2 separate regions of the Homo sapiens genome follow, and region 2 is linked to region 1. The links come from fine-mapping of genetic effects on gene expression. Tissue or cell type: spinal cord. Region 1 holds a variant in brackets; the other region holds the start of a gene. All regions are shown on one strand. Distances are from middle to middle.

What was found. PIP is the estimated chance that this variant, and not a neighbour inherited with it, causes the effect.
Region 2: THBS2 starts here. The variant in region 1 is fine-mapped to the expression of THBS2 in spinal cord (GTEx, PIP above 0.99).

The regions. Positions count from the first base shown.
Region 1 is chr6:169,210,884-169,219,065 of GRCh38, forward strand. It overlaps THBS2 (thrombospondin 2), which reads right to left. Exons shown (of 22, transcript NM_003247.5): 22 at 4,902-6,946. The coding sequence ends at 6,939. It overlaps THBS2-AS1 (THBS2 antisense RNA 1), which reads left to right and starts at 2,329. Exons shown (of 3, transcript NR_134621.1): 1 at 2,329-2,695; 2 at 3,291-3,604. RefSeq lists a silencer at 2,068-2,417. The variant G/C (reference allele first, on the strand shown) is at 3,735.
Region 2 is chr6:169,248,802-169,256,983 of GRCh38, forward strand. THBS2 (thrombospondin 2) reads right to left here and starts at 5,045. Exons shown (of 22, transcript NM_003247.5): 1 at 4,923-5,045; 2 at 1,932-2,005; 3 at 1-172. The coding sequence starts at 1,983. RefSeq lists enhancers at 2,581-3,094, 3,607-4,119, 4,120-4,631.

The DNA of each region.
Region 1 (8,182 bases):
TTGCTACAAATGTATAGTAACCAGAACAGCACAGTACCAACACTAAAACAGACATGTGGACCAATGGAATAAAACGATGAATTCAGAAATAAATCCACGTACTTACAGCCAACTCATTTTTGGCAAAGACATCAAGAACATACATTGGGGAATGGACAGTCTCTTTGATAAATACTGCCAGGAAAGTTAGACATGCAGAAAAAAATGAATCGAGACCCCCCTCTTTTACCATATACATACATCAAATCAAAATGGATTAAAGACTTCAATGCAAGACCCAAAACGATAGAACTACTACTAAAAAATAATACGGAGAAACATTCCAGGACATTGATCTGGGTAAAGATTTTTTGGTAAGACCTCAACATTACAGACAACTATAACAAAAATAGAAAAATAGTATTATATCAAGCCAGAAAGCTTCTACACAGCAAAGGAAAAAATCAACGAAGTGAAGAGACAACCCACAGAATGGGAGAAAATATTTGCAAACTACCCATCCAACAAGGGATTAGTAATCAGAATATATAAGAAACTCAAACAACCCAATTAAAAACTGGGCAAAAGACCTAATAGACATTTCTCAAAAGAAATGGCCAACACGTACATGAAAAAAGGCTCAACATCACTAGTCATTATAGAAATGCAATTCAAAACCACAAGAAGATATTATCTGACCCCATTTAGAATTATCACAAAGACAAAAAATAGCAAATGCTGATGAGAAGGTGGAAAAAAAGGAACACTCATACACTGTTGGTAGGGATGTAAAGTAGTACACCCACTAGGGAAAACAGTATGGGGGTTCCTCAAAAAACTAAACTAGAACTACGTTTGGTATAGTCCAGCAATCTTACTGCTGGGTATGCATCTGACAGAAAGGAAATCAGTATATCAAAGAGACATCGGCCCTCTCATGTTTATTACAACACTACTCACAATAGCCAAGACATCGAATCAACCTAAGTGTTCATCAATAGGCGAAAGGACAAAGAAAATATTGTATATGCACACAATGGAATACTAGTCAGCCATAAAAAGGAATTAAATCCTGTCATTTGCAGCAGGATGGATAGATCTGAAGATCATTCTGTTATGTAAAATAAGCATGACACAGAAAGACAAATATTGCATGTTCTCATTCATATGTGGGAGCTAAAACAGTGGGTCTTGTGGATGTTGAGAGCAGGATGGCGGATGCCAGATGCTGGGGTGGAATGGTGGAGAGGAAGATGAAGGGGAGCTGGTTAAGGAGTACAAAAATACAGTCAGAAGGAATGAGCTATCACATGCAGTATAGTAGGAAAATTATGCTTAATAGTTTATTGTACATATCAAAATAGCTAGAAGAATTGTAATGTTCTCAATACAGAGAATAAAAATGTATGAGGTCATGGGTATCCCAATTACCCTAACTTTATCATTACACATTTTAAACAGATATCAAAATATCACATATAACCCAAGAATACTACAGATATTATAATGAATTAGAATTAAATCTTCCAAACTATACACGAGGGTGTCTTTCCATTTATATAGGTTTTAATTTATTTTGGCATTGTTTTTCTGTTTTCATAGTACAAGTCTTCTGCCTCCCAAGTTACATTTATTACGAGGTATTTTATTGTTTTGTATGTTATTGCAAATGGTATTGTACTTTTAACTTCCGTTTTAAATTGTTTCTGTCTGGTATACAGACGCACAACTGATTTCCATGTGTTGATCTTGTTCTCTGACACTTTGCCAACTTTTCCACTTCTTTAAAATCCAGAATAAGTATGGCCTGAGACAAGGGAGGTTTGTGTATTCATGATGCATATGTATAGTCACGTGTATGTTGCTTGCGTATATACCATTCAATAATCAATACATAAATATAAATAATATGTATCTCCATTTTAACAACTGTAATTTATTCCTAAAGCCATATTTAAAAATAATTACATTTTTAAATGGGAAAAGTCGTATGAAGAATTCTGTCCCACCTCAAGATAACTAAACAATTTTTCAGTAGAAAAATAAATCTAAAAACAGAAAAAATATTTTAAAAGTAAATAAATCGTACATAAAACGAAGCGCAATCGAGTTTTGTTGCACTAATGCTTTCTTCCTCTTTCTACACCATTTTGTTTGCAGAATCGGCCTTTTGAAGGTTCCGGGTTACCCTGCAGTGAAGCTGTCATTCAAGCACAGTCAGGGCCCAGGAGAGGGCGCAGGGAGGGCGCAGGCGCGCAGGGAGGGCTGGGCATGCGCTCGGCGGGGCCTCCGGCTCTCGGGGACGCGCGCGGGCGGGGCTCGCCGGGGCTGAACCGGCTGAGCTTCCCAGGGACGCCCCGACCCAAGCCCTGCAGTCCGCGCGCGTCAGGGGTGTGCGCTGGAGGCCGGAAAGTCGAATATCACTTCCCATCCTGCATTTGATGTGCTTTGGGGTTGAAAAAGCCCTTATGTGGTAAAAAAAAAAAAAAAAAAAAAGTCAGAAAAGTGGCAAAAGTCTTCAACGGCCTGAAAAAGGCCGAGACAGGAACTGAGAAGCTGGCAGTAGGTCCTGCTACTGCTGCAGGGGCGGCGGGCGCCCTGGGTGGGCCACGAGGCAGGGACAGCCGAGGCTCCGCGCTCACCCCACCCGCAAGGGGCCAAGCGCAGACTCAGGGGAGCCAGAGGGGCCGGACCGCTGAGCAAGGGCTGGGGAAGGGTGAGTCAGGGGCCCCTGTGGGACTGCACGGGGTGGGGGGCACGGGCCCGGACCTCTCTCACAAATGCCCACGTGGTCCCCAAGGCTAACGCCGGCTGCGTGGGCCGCAAGCTGCTCTGGGCCCGCAGCTCACTCCCCTGGGCACAGGGCTGACACCCGGGCGAAGCAGGAGTGTCCCAGCTTGCTTCAGCCCCTCCCCTGGGCCCCCAGGCTGGTGGCTCCAGAAGGACTTTACTAAGAGGGTGGGAAGCATCAGTGCAGGTACCTGCCCTGGGCTAAGGGCCTCGTGTGGGTGATAGCCCTCAGCAGGGCCCTCCCATTTGGGCATTGGCAGCCCACAGGGCTGTGGCCGTGGAGCTGGAGTGGCAGCTCCTGGATCACCCCACACCTGCGTTCCTCAAGGCCTAGGCACCACTTGCTCCATGGTCAAAAGCATCACTTTGTGAAACGCAGACTGAGCAAAGCTGGCCTAAGATTTTGGTCCTCCAGGAATGACGGAAGGAGCCCTCTGCCCCCATGTAGCCTATAGCTGGGACACGCAGCAGCCAGTGAGTTGGTCACGGTATGAAGGCTTCTCTCCTCCCGGCAATCACAGATCCCACGCTTGGATACTTGGGAGTGAAGATGTGTTATTTCACCCACCGACTCGTTCCACACGACCAAGGCCTGTGCCTGCCCTGAGGGCGAGTTGGTTGAGCCTTGTACAGACAACTCTCAGAGCGTGGGCCTGGGCCGAACCTTTCCCTGTGAGCAGCAGCATCAGCGTCTAGAACGACGGCCCTCCCGGTCCACGGTGGAAGGTGCGGAGCTCCCGTGGTGTGCTGGCAGCGATTCGCAGAAGGGAGATGGAGGGCCACAGGGCAGGTGCTCGCACGGAGTCATCGAGGTCCAGGGACACCTTCCTCCCAGGTGAGCTCACAAAGGCACCACACATTAATCCTGGGAGACAACCATTCTGATGTGGCTAAGGCCATCGACAGGGAACATGATTGTCAGGAAACCTCAACTTTTCGATAAATGACAGCAAAACCTGAATGCA[G/C]GAGAAATGTATCTCATTTTAATGCCTGACTTCTAAGCATCCTTATTCAACATATTATATGTATTTTTTGTTTCATGAGTAAAATGTACATTGAGCTTCCTCCAGTAGCTGTCCATAGACCAGCCACTATCACTGCCATCATTATTTTGTTTCTAAACTTTTCTTTTTACACATGTAGGTCTAGCTTTTTCCTCCATATTGATGAACTAAAACTCACTCATTTCACAACTCAAAGCCAGGGCCTTCAGTTCACAGCCCGTTGCCTCAGACGGCCTTTCCTATATCTTATTGCTTCACTGTCTGACTCACTCCAGCGTGTTTCAGCCAAGTATACTTGTTTTTATTCATCTTGCTCTCTTTTCCTCCCTCCCCCAACTCCCCCTCTTTCCCTCTGTCTCTTTGTCTCTTTCTCTCTCCCCCATCCCTCCCTCTCTTCCCCTTTCTCTCTGGATGCCCTCTCTCCCTCTCTCCCTCCCTCTCTTCCCCTTTCTCTCTGGATGCCCTCTCTCCCTCTCTCCCTCCCTCTCTTCCCCTTTCTCTCTGGATGCCCTCTCTCCCTCTCTCCCTGTTTTTCTTCTCTGTGTCTGCCTGCATAATATTCAGAAATCCCAACAAGAGCAGCTGGAGCTGCTAAAGAAACCCCAGCGTTCTGTGCTGCTGCCATTGCCTCCTCCAACTGGTGAGCCCGATCGGCCCATTTTTAGGCAGTGCTGTGGTTGGAAATGGGCCCTTCCTCTGGGGTCCGCTACTTCCCTCCACCTGACTCAGAAGAATGAGTCAAGAGGGAAGAACAGCTCGTATTAGGGAGAGGGTCCCGTGTGCTGTTGCCTTTTTCGGAATCATTTCAATCATGTTTGCCAAATTCCCTACGAAGTTCTGTTCCCTCGTTTGACAATGAGCAGAGGCAGGAGAGATGAATTGCTAAATGGTTGTATCCCACACCGTGCTGGGAGGCTCAGCAGAACAGAGACCTGTGTCAAGCAGGGCTTCCTTCTCCACCAGGCCCTTCAGCCTGCATTTTAACCTGTGACTTGCGAGGAGATAGCCCGTGATCACACCACAGGCCTACTTACATGACAGGAAGCAAAATGCCAATTCCTTCTACCCCTTTCCCCCACCCCGGTAGAAACCCTGCTAGTTCTTTTTAAAAAAGGGAGAGAGATCATGTATAGAAAACCTTTTTTACAATTTATTTCCTGTTGTTAATCTTTAAAAATGAGGTTCTAGCTAAGTGCAGGGTTTCAGTGGTGAAATTTTGACCATGTGAACACATAAATAAATATTTACAGTCTTTGGCAAAACACATGACGTTTCATCAACCTATACGATAAATTTGTTTAGAAAAACATAAATAATTTACAAAAAATATGGTACATTCTAAATACTCACATCATCGTCACTCCCACACCATTGTACGGTTGACCCCACAACACAGAAACAGAAAACCTGCACGCTGTTGACAGTCGCTACATTTAATGAAGTATCCCAACGCTTCGTTGGTCTCGGGAATACAGCTCCACACGCAAAAAAGTAAAAAGTGCAGCAAAACAACAACACAACGATCAACCTCAAAGGAAACAACAAAATTAATTTTATCAAAATGCAATGTGTACATTAAGACTAAAGTTATGGATTGTTCCTGTTTGGCATAGAAATGTGATGACTATTAACAGAAAGGGGAAAAAGATTTGCCCCCTATCCATCATCAGACAGACAGACTTCTCTTACTAAACCCCTTATGTGGAGTGGGATGAGTGACTATTTCCTGCAGAAAGATCATGCAACTTAAAGCAAAAAAACAAACCAACCAACAAAAAAAACAAAAACAAAAACAAACTTGTGCATATTACACATGACTGATTATTGGGTGTGCCTGGCAAGACTAAATGCTGATTCTTTTCAGCGTTTGAATTAAAAGAATTCCATATACAGCAGATAGATAACAGTAACAAATATTGAACTAAAATCGCTGGCAACATTATATATTTAAGGTTCCATCATAAACTCCTCATTATTCTCTATGTATTCTGTTACAGCTTCTAGCATGCTTCATCGTGACAACCTAATATTATCAAGCCTCATATTTTCACAGGATTATATACTTATTAGATGTTTGTTTCTAGAAATTATACTACATATGTGTTACTAGGCATATTTAAAATAAGTTACTGGTAAATGGAGTTGCATTCTATAGTCACTTAATAAATATTAACAAAATATTTATAACTGGAACCTTAATGAAATGTATCATCAAATCAGGTAAAAGCAACTTGTCCGCAGTTACCAAAGCCTAGATACGCGTTAGATGCGCCTTTTCCGGCCTGTGCGTCTGCTCTGGTTCCTCTCAGGCAGCAAAGCTGGGGAAGGAAGCTCAGGCAGGAGCCTCCCCGACGCCACAGCGGCACAAGCAGCAGCTAAAGCACCGCACTTTGCTCTGCTAACCTTTTACTTAAATGAGGTTTTGCCAAATCCACATCTGGAACCGCGTCACACCCATTTGCAAGGATGTTTGTTCTTTGATGAAACTGCATCTCTACTGCACATGAGGGCTTTCATTGTAGGACAAGAGGAGAGTTCGTTTATTTTTGTAACTGTTTTACATGTTCCGATTAGTTAATCGGTAGCTTATGTCATTTGCTATGCCTGTTGTCTTCTAATCTCTCCTTACTAAAACATTACTTCAAATTTGAATTGACCCTTGTTTATAATTTATTTAATGGGATTTGTGTGTCATTGTAGAGCAACTCTAATTCAAGAATAGTGACAACTTTAAGCACCAAAAGTAGTTCAGCAATATTTTTCATGCTTAATTTATCATAATGGCTTATGCACAGTATTCCCTTCAACTCCATATACACATAAATACAATAAGTAATTACATTTTATATGTAAACGTCATTCTTTTTAAACAAACAAGAAAAAGCAATGTAATGGCATGCCCAATTTTCACTCCACATAAAGTCTCATATATCACCAAACTGGTTTCCTCTAGTGGGTTAGATGTTCATCTCTGAGTTCCATTGATATTTATCCTCTGAAGGCACTTGGGTTTGGGGTTGCTGGCAGGAGGTGAAGAACCATCAGAGTTAAGGTCAAGGGACAGGAGGTGCTGCTAGAGAGAGAAGCCACAAGGACCACAATGAACTGAGGTGTCTAGGGACCATGGCATGCACAGGGCATTGCCGGAAATGCAGCAAATCTTGTTTAAATATCTACAAAAAGAAAAAAAAAAGCAATAAACAATTAGCATAACTGGGCCATGGGTAGTGATTTATTTTGTTTTACCTAGAACCAGAAATATAATTACTTTAATTAAAGATGAGATCTATCATATGGATGGATGGATGGATGGATGAAATGGATGGGTGGATGGATGAGATGGGTGGGTGGATGGATGAGATGGGTCGGTGGGTGGGTGGATGAGATGGATGGATGGATGGATGGATGAAATGGATGGGTGGGTGGATGAAATGGGTGGGTGGATGGATGGGTGGATGGATGGGGTGGGTGGGTGGATGAGATGGATGGATGGATGGATGAAATGAGTGGGTGGATGGATGGATGAGTGGGTTGGTGGATGAGATGAATGGGTGGATGGATGATGAGATGGTTGGGTGGCTGGATGAGATGGATGGATGGGTGGATGGATGGATGAAATGGATTGGTGGATGGATGAAATGGGTGGGTGGATGGATGGATGAGTGGGTTGGTAGATGAGATGAATGGGTGGATGAGATGAATTGATGGATGGATGGATGAATGAGATAGGTGGGTTGGTGGAGATGGATGGGTGGGTGGATGGATGAGATGGATGAGTGGGTGGGTGGGTGGCTGAGATGGATGGATGGGATAGATGAGTGGGGGTGGATGAAATGGATGGGTGGATGGATGGATGGATGAGATGGATGGGTGGGTGGGTGGATGGACTAGATGGATAGGTGGATGGGGCTGGGTGGATGGATGGATGAGATGGGTGGGTGTGTGGGTGGGTGGATGGATGAATGGATGGATGGATGAGATGGATGGTTGGGTGAATGGATGAGATGGATGGGCGGATGAGTAGATGGATGGATGGGATGGATGGATGGATGAGACAGGTGGATGGATGGATGAGATAGGTGGGTGGATGAGATGGATGGATGGGTGGGTGGGTGGATGGAGGGATGAGTGGGTTGGTGGATGAGATGGATGAGTGCATGGGTGGGTGGCTGAGATGGATGGATGGATGGATAAGATGGATGGATAAGTGCTGGGTGGATGGATGGATGATGAGTGGGTGGGTAAGTGGATGAGATGAGTGGATGGATGGATGAGTAGGTGGGTGGATGAGATGAGTGGATGGATGGATGAGTAGGTGGGTGGATGAGTGGATGGATGGATGAGTAGGTGGGTGGATGAGATGAGTGGATGGATGGATGAGTAGGTGGGTGGATGAGATGGATGGATGG
Region 2 (8,182 bases), 38 kb after region 1:
GTGATCTTGCTGAGGTCATCTGCGTTCACCGGTGGGATGTAGTCAAAGCGCACGAAGCGGTAAGCCGGCACGCCGGGGTCGGGCCCGCGGAACTGCTTGGCGCCAATGGTCTTGCGGTTGATGTTGCTGATACTGAAAAGGTCGAAGGTCGTGTCTTTGTCCTGGTGACCAGCTGCAAAGGGAACCGCAGTGGAGAAGGGTGACGTAGGGGAAGAGGGCGAGGTTGGCCTGACCCAGGGTGACAAACCAGAACCTCGCGTGTAAGGAAATTAACGAGGCCTCCCAATATCCCGCAGCTTCTCTCCCTTTTTTATGGGAATCCTGGAGCCACCTCTGATGAAAAGCCACTATCCTCCGTGCCAGTGCCGCTACTCAGAGTGTGGGCCCAACGCAGCTGCGGGTCTGTGGGGTCAGTTTCTGCCCCTGGCTGGTCGAGGAGCGTGTGCCAGAAGGTAAATCGGTGGAGACAGGCAGCGCCCTGTCCGTTCAGCTGGCCCTTTGCATAGCCCGACCTTCTTGGTGAGGGAATCCCGGCCTCGCTTGACATCCTGGCACATGTCCCAGGTCACTCTGTCTGGCTCTTCCATCTCAGATCTGAGGCTGAAAAGCAGCCATCCTGTCTACCAGTTGATTGCTCAGGAAAAAACCAAATAAATGAATAAACTGGGAAAGACATGGATCTTTAGCCTTGCTATTGATAGAGTGTCAGAAAGCGGCTAAATCGTATGTTGCTTTCTTGTTGAGATCAACTGCCTAAAACCAGTTATGTCAGCAGGTTGTTATTTTGTAAAAATGTATTCTCCAACTCTTAATGCACCCTGTGGGTAAGGATCTGAAAGAGTGGTCAGTATCAAGTACAGAAACAAATGGTTTTAAGTCACCACCTAAGCTATTGGCAAGAAAAGTGATCAGATCTCACGAAAATCATAATAGTTTAAATAATTCAAAGCCAGGCGCGGTGGCTCACACCTGTAATCCCAGCACTTTGGGAGGCCGAGGTGGGTGGATCATGAGGTCAGGAGACGGAGACCATCATGGCTAACGTGGTGAAACCCCGTCTCTACTAAAAATACAAAAAATTAGCCAGGCATGGTTGTGGGCGCTTGTAGTCCCAGCTACTCGGGAGGCTGAGGCAGGAGAATGGCGTGAACCCGGGAGGCAGAGCTTGCAGTGAGCCCAGATCACGCCACTGCACTCCAGCCTGGGTGACAGAGCAGGACTCCGTCCCAGAAAAAAAAAAAAAAGTAATACACTGAACAGAAAGTTTAGCCAAAGCCTTCCTTTTCATCTAATATTTAGCAAATTAGAACAGGATAATACACAGGGTTGCTGACAGAAGTGGGCAATGGACCACTTTCCATAGAGTTACTTGGCAAGAATTAAAAGCTTTGATTCAGCAATTCTAATTTTGTAACCTATCCAAAGGATATAATCACAAATGCTACTTAAGATTTATCCACGTCAATATTTTTTGTGTCATCATTTATGCTAATGAAAATAAACCAATCTAAGTGGGAATTGATTGAAAAAGATCAGGCTTTATCTGTGATGAAATATTATGTGGTCATTAAAAATCATACTGTAGAAAAGTAAACACATGGGAAAATATTTAAAGGAGGAAGAAAGTGGAGCAAAAAGAATTCAACAAACACCAAATACTTGCAGTGTTGTGAACATCCTCTATAGAAAAAAGGATAAACTGTGCAACTCTAGGTGGAATTGCATTTTTCTCTAACACCTGAATTTTCCAAAGATAAATTATCTCATGTCATATTGGCTCAGAAGTAAGTTACTATTTGATTTATAAAGGAGCTAGAAGGTCCTCACGGGTAAGATTGTCCAACCACACACTTTATTTTGTCATCTCTCCCCTTGCAGCTAAGCCATATCTCACAAGCCAGAGAGAGACCACAGGCTCTGAGGACACTCACCTTGCGTGCTGGGCCACACCCACAGAGCCAGCAGGACCAGCCTCCAGACCATCCTGCCTCCTGCAGCTGAGCTCCTGGGAATACAGGAAACCCTTGTTAGTGATGAGTCCACAGCTGCAACCCTGCCTGTGAGCGAGACTGGCCCAGTGACTCACATGACCATTGAATAACAGTTTGCATATAAAACTCAGCACCAACTGGATTTGTGGCAAACTGAGAGCGAAGGAGGAAATTTACTCTTCAAGCAGGATTCTTCTAACTATAAGATTTGTTGAGCTAGCATTTGCCGGCAAGCACTGCACATCACGTTCTAAATATTCCTATTATTTCATCTTCATAATAGCCTGGGAGGTATGTGCTGCTCTAATTGTCCTCATTTTACAGATGAGCAAATGGAAGATGGGCAAGTTCAGCGCTTGCCTGGAGTAATTCTGTTCATACGACTCGTAGACAGGACTTAGATGTAGAAAGTTTGAATTTAGAAAAATATCCAGCCTGACAAAAATAATCTGTGAACGCATTTTGTGTAAATATCCAGCAAAAAACAGTTATGCATAACCTAATTAAATAGAATGAATATCAACTGTAAAAAAAAGTTACAAATAAACTTAATTTGGTGAATTATACTTACAAAACAACAGAACACTTGACTTAGCCATCATTTTGACCCTGCCTCTTTATTTTCCTGCAGGCCTGTTTTTCCATTCTTGGGGATTTTAAGTTGGCACAGCTCAGTGGAGGCTGGCCCCGAAGTCAGGAGATGTGGTCCAAAGCCCGGCTGGGCGATTAACCCTGTGGATCTCAGCTTCTCCTCTTCCGGGCGAGCATGAGCCTGAGGGTCCCAGGGCTCCCCAGGTCCCTTCCAGCAATTGGTCACACCCTGCTCTAGGTTGAAGGGAAGACTGAGACCCCAATTCTTCCCATATTTAGAATATCAAAGGCCGTTAACTTCTCATTGTTAATCCAAGGACTCTCCCTCTCCAGAAACAACATTTGGTAACCTGGAAATCCTCACCTTCCAGGAATAGAGAAACATTCCTCAGAAGAAGAGAAATGCTTGGCAGCACCTGCAGACCCCCCACCCATCTGCTGCTGGGACCCCCCCCCCAAACCATCTGCTCCCCCCAGTGCCGCCCCAGGGGTCCTTGGTGATTGTTTCATCTGTCCTGGCTCCGGAAGCAGCACGGCCTGCGGCCGGAGTCAGCACCAGGCTGAGCAATGCTGAGCACCAGCTGTGCAACCTAGGGAAACTTACTTAACTTCTCTGTCTCAGTTTCCTCATCCGTAGAATGAAACGTAGCGTCATGTAAAATGCCCACCTCATCGGGTTGTCATGAGAGATGAATTCGGCAAATGAAACTTCACCAGGGGCTGACTTAGCCCAGCGAGCCACAGGCATGGGTTACCGGAGCAGAATGTGCCTCTGGGTCTGGGGCGCTTTCTACTCTAACTGCCCGAGGCAGCTGCAGTAATAATGGTGGTGCTGATAGGGCCTTTCTATGGAGCTCTTAAGAGGGTTTAATGACAGGAGCGAACACTTGGCCATGAGCTTAGAACAGTACCTGCATGCAGTAAGCACCACAGAACGGTGTTAGAATACACAGCTCAGGTACAGCCTTGGCAGGCTCTTCCCACCTCCCCACCTCATCAGCCCACACTGCCGGGTACGTCGCAGTCCCCTAAGGACAGCTGTGTGGGGCTGGCCCTGCAGAGGCCAGCCAAGAACAGGATGGTAAATGCGAAAGTTCTGGATGCCCAGCTTCATAAGGACAGGTTAGAAAAACTAAATCAAACTCCTTTGACGAAACCAGATCCTACTGTCTCTGCCTTGAGGTAGATTCTTACAAGAGCAGGAGGCTAACAAAGCATCCCCTGCTGCGGATTGTCAAAGGACAGTGAGGCTCCATCCCACAGGAAGGATGAGCAGCCAGGCTACCTGGCCTCAGCCCATCCAGGGACACCGGGCATGCATGGATGGAGCCACGGATGAGCCAGTGCCGCTCACCCCTGCCCCAGCCTCTGCACGCCACACATCCACGTTTATGCTTGTGTTTTTCCAAAAGAAAGATTTCGGTGCCTGTCTGCAGCAGAATGTAGTTTGAATTTGCAAAGGTCTTTTAAAACTCTTTTCGTATGAACAATCAAAGTAAAAGATAGCTTTGCAGAGAGCTAATTGTTTACCGGCCGTCCACCACCAACAGCAGTCTGATTAAACACCAGACTCCTGGGTGCTCAGCTCCCAGTCCTGGGCAGCCAAACCCACCTTCCTTAAGTGGTAGCCAGGCAACCTGCCAGCTCGCTTTTCATATGCAAACTGCCCCAAGACTGTTAAAAGTCGCTGTGTGTCCCGGCAGTCACAGGATTTTCCATAGACTTACCACAAATACTCTCTAGTTATGTTCAAAACCACTTTTCAGCTGCTAATAATGTTAACAATCAGAGTCTCTCTTTAATCTACTAATAATGTTAACAATCAGAGTCTCTCTTTAATCTACTAATAATGTTAACGATCAGAGTCTCTCTCTAATCTACTAATAATGATGTTAACAATCAGAGTCTCTCTCTAATCTCCAGTTACTTTTCAGATATTCCGGGAGTTGTTTCTAATTCTCTCCTCAATAACAAACTCTCATGTGGAATCTTCTTCTTCGGAAACTGAAAACATAAAGCGTTTACCCGGGTTCCCAGGCAGGTATATACATTGAAATAGCAGCAGCCACAACCCTCAGAGAGGAAGGGGTGCCCGGCTGGTGAAAGCACAGCCACGGAGGAAAAGCTGAGGAGCGGCCACGTGCCTTGCTCTTCAAGCGGGCAGTAGAAACACCACGTGAAGAAACACTTGCCATTTAGTGTTAATAGATACACCACCCACCTTAAGTTAAGAATCGAAATTGCTCCTTTTTCTTCTCCGCTTCTTAGAGTTCGAGAACTCTAATTTCTTAAAATTAGAGCACCATTAAATAATTGATTGAGTTTAAGAAATAATCGTACCTGGTTTGCCAAAAAGATGCAGTGATGACTGGTTTCAGTGTTCCGGACCGAGTCAGAAAGGCGCAGGCTCTGCTGGAGCGAGAGACCGGCCCTGCAGTGCAGGATGCTCCGGTGGACGTGGCCGAGCGGCTCCCGGGCAGCGCGGCTTTATATGCCGCTTCTCCTGTGCAGGGCTGTCAATCAGACACACGAGGAAGCACGTTTAATTCATTCCTTCGAAGGAATGACATCATCCCCCTTCTGATCTCACCATTTGCTCCGAGTACCTGCTGCAGGGGTCCAAGTCCAGCCCCTCTGTACTGGATGCCGTCTCCTCCTCCTGCACCCCGGCCCCTGCCAGACAGGCCTGGGAGGAGCCAGACGGAGAGAGGGAAGGCAGGGACTCACTTTTCCTGTCTTCTCTCAGGAAATAAGATGCTATAAATAACACTAGCAAGATTGGCTAGAACTCCTCATTTTGCTTAAGAGAAAAAAATGCAAGTTCTATGCCTTAAATATGTTTCGAATTACTCAATGTGATATTGGTCTTTCTAAACCAAATGAGTGACTCTCAATAACACATGAAATACATCGGTGAGTATCAATAATCAGTCTGTATATTAATAAAGTTATTATGGTCAATAATCAAGTGTATTATGTGACAAAAATGAAATTTAATATAAAAGGAAGTTGCCAACATTTATCTCAGGCAGTTAGAGGACTGAAAAGCTGTACTGCAGCTTTGGGAAAATTCATTTTTACCCAAATTCTGCTTCATTTGCTCAGTGAGGATCCCCTAGAAGGACGTCTCCCAGTGGACGTGCAATACCCGTAGAAGGGTGTGTCCCAGTGGACGTACAGTACCCGGCCAAGTCCCCTTGGTGCACACTTGCACGTGGCCCCATCACAGGAACAACCTGACGTGCAGGCACAGAGCAAGGACTCGAGAGAACGAGAAGCAGTGGCAGCAGCTAACCCCCGCCCCTCCCACACCTCAGGCATCACCCGCAATCAGGGTGCACTCTGCATGGGGGTGGGGGGCACCGCTTCTCAGAGGTCAGGGTGGACGATGGATGCGGAGGGGCTGCTTCTCCCAGGTCAGGGTATACAGTGGAAAGGGGAAGCTGCTGCTCTAAGGTGGGGGTTGATGGTACATGGGGGAGGGGCTGCTTCTCCCAAGTTGGGCTGGACAGTGGATGGGGGAGGTGCCACTTCTCCCAGGCCAGTGTGAAAGGTGGATGGTGGAGAGGCTGTTTCTCCCAGGTCAGTGTGCAAGGTGGCTGGGGATGTGTTGTTTCTCCCAGGTCAGGGTTAATGGCAGACAGGGGAGCTGCTGCTTCTCCTGGGTTGGGGTGGACCTTGGATGGGGGAGGTGCTACTTCCCCAGGTGGGGTGGATGGTGACTGGGGAGCTGCTGCTTTGCCCGGAGCCACCTGCACCTGCTTCATGTCGGCACCTGCCTGTCAGGTTCCTTCACGTTTGTGTGGAGTTGTCAGCCTGGCCATGGATCCGTCAAGTCCTAGTTAGAGAACATTAAAGCGAATTTCTGTGGACACAACCCTTACTGTGTCTGTGGCAGGGGAGTGTCTCTTAAGCCTCCTGGCATTCCCCCACAGGGGTCCAGCGCTGCAGAGGTCGGCAGGCACCATGAAGAGCAAGCCTCACTTTCTGGCCTCTGTCTTCAGGGAGGATATGCGAGCGGGTGTGGGAGAGGGAAGGAGCTTTCATTTGTGAAAACCTCTGTTTTTCCTAATGGCACCTGTTTATTTATCACTTGGCAAACATCAGTTTCCGACACATGCACAGACAAAAGCCTCCAAGAGTGTATGTGTCATGTTTAAGGTACGTTATTTTGCTTTTTAAGCTATTAGGGACAAAGTCATCATTTGAATTAAAAAGTAGTTTAAATAGATTGATGTTATCTCAAATTCAAAAAAAGTATAAACCAGTTCCCCTTAAAGAATTTTCAGTGGATAATTATCCATTCATCAGTTTGAGTTTTTCTGCCTCCAGGTTAGTTTTTCCTGGGGCCAGAACATGGAGGGCGGCATCCCCTACTCTGCGTGCCACGGCCTCTCCTGTTCCTCAGTCCACAGAATGCGTGTTTCCTGATTAAAGCTGAAGACAGGCAGCTCAGCTGCTCAGCACTTCAGGAGCATGCGGTGAAGACCGTGACACTCACTGGGGAGCAGGAAGGTATGTATTCATGACTCCACGTGCCGATGGGCAGGTACAGAGAAGATGGGCCTCCTTCTGTAAAATCTGGCAGCCCAGAATCAGGGAAGTCTGTTTAGAGGAGACAGAAGGTAAGCCGATTGGAACATGGCCCGTGAATGGGGTGTCCCCAGTTGAGAAAGTATTTCAGGCAGAGAGAGTGGGTAGGTGTTCATGGTGCAAAGAACAGCAGGCTCCTGGTGCGGCACCCAGGCCAGGTGCATGGAATGGGCTTCATAGACGATGGAAGTCACAGAGAGTTTCCTGGCAGGGTGAGGCGGGACTTCATGGGCCCACTGTGCAGGGGACCAGAGGGGGAGTAGAGGGGACAGCCCCTGGTCAGCATCTTCCCTGGGCCCCCTGGGGGTGAGGAGGAAGGGAGATGTGAGGATGAAACAAAAAGCAGTCAGAGGCTTCGTCAGGAAAGCCAGCGATGCTGAGGGAAGCATCATCACATGTGTGCGCGGGAGGATGAGGGACAGACACGCAGCAGGTGGAATCATGTCCCCCCAAGTTCACATCCACCCCAAACCTGTGAATGAGCTTACTGGAAATACCACAGTGCTTGTGGATGAAATCAAGTGTAGATGTCGTCGAACTGATGTAGGACAGGCTCCAAATCTAATGGCTAGTGTTCTAATAAGAATAAAGAATATGAAGACGGAGACACAGGGCGAGCTCCGCTTGATGAAAGAGGCAGAGACCACAGTGATGCAACCACTAGCCAAGGTCACCAAGGGCTGCCAGAAACACCAGAACTGTGGGAGACAGGGAAGGGGCCTCTGCCAGAACATTCCGAGGACGTGCAGCCCTGCCACACACTGCATTTAAAACTGCTGGACTCCAGAACCATGGGACAATACATGTGTGTTGTTTGTGATACTTCATCATAGCGGGCCCAGGGAACTAATACAGGCACACCTTGGAGATACCGCAGGCTCGGTTCCACACCTCTGCAATAAAGTGAGTTGCATGGATTTGTGCTTTCCCAGTGCATATAAAAGGGATGTTTACACTCCACTATTGTCTATTAAGGGTGCAATAGCATTATGTCTAAGAGAACAATG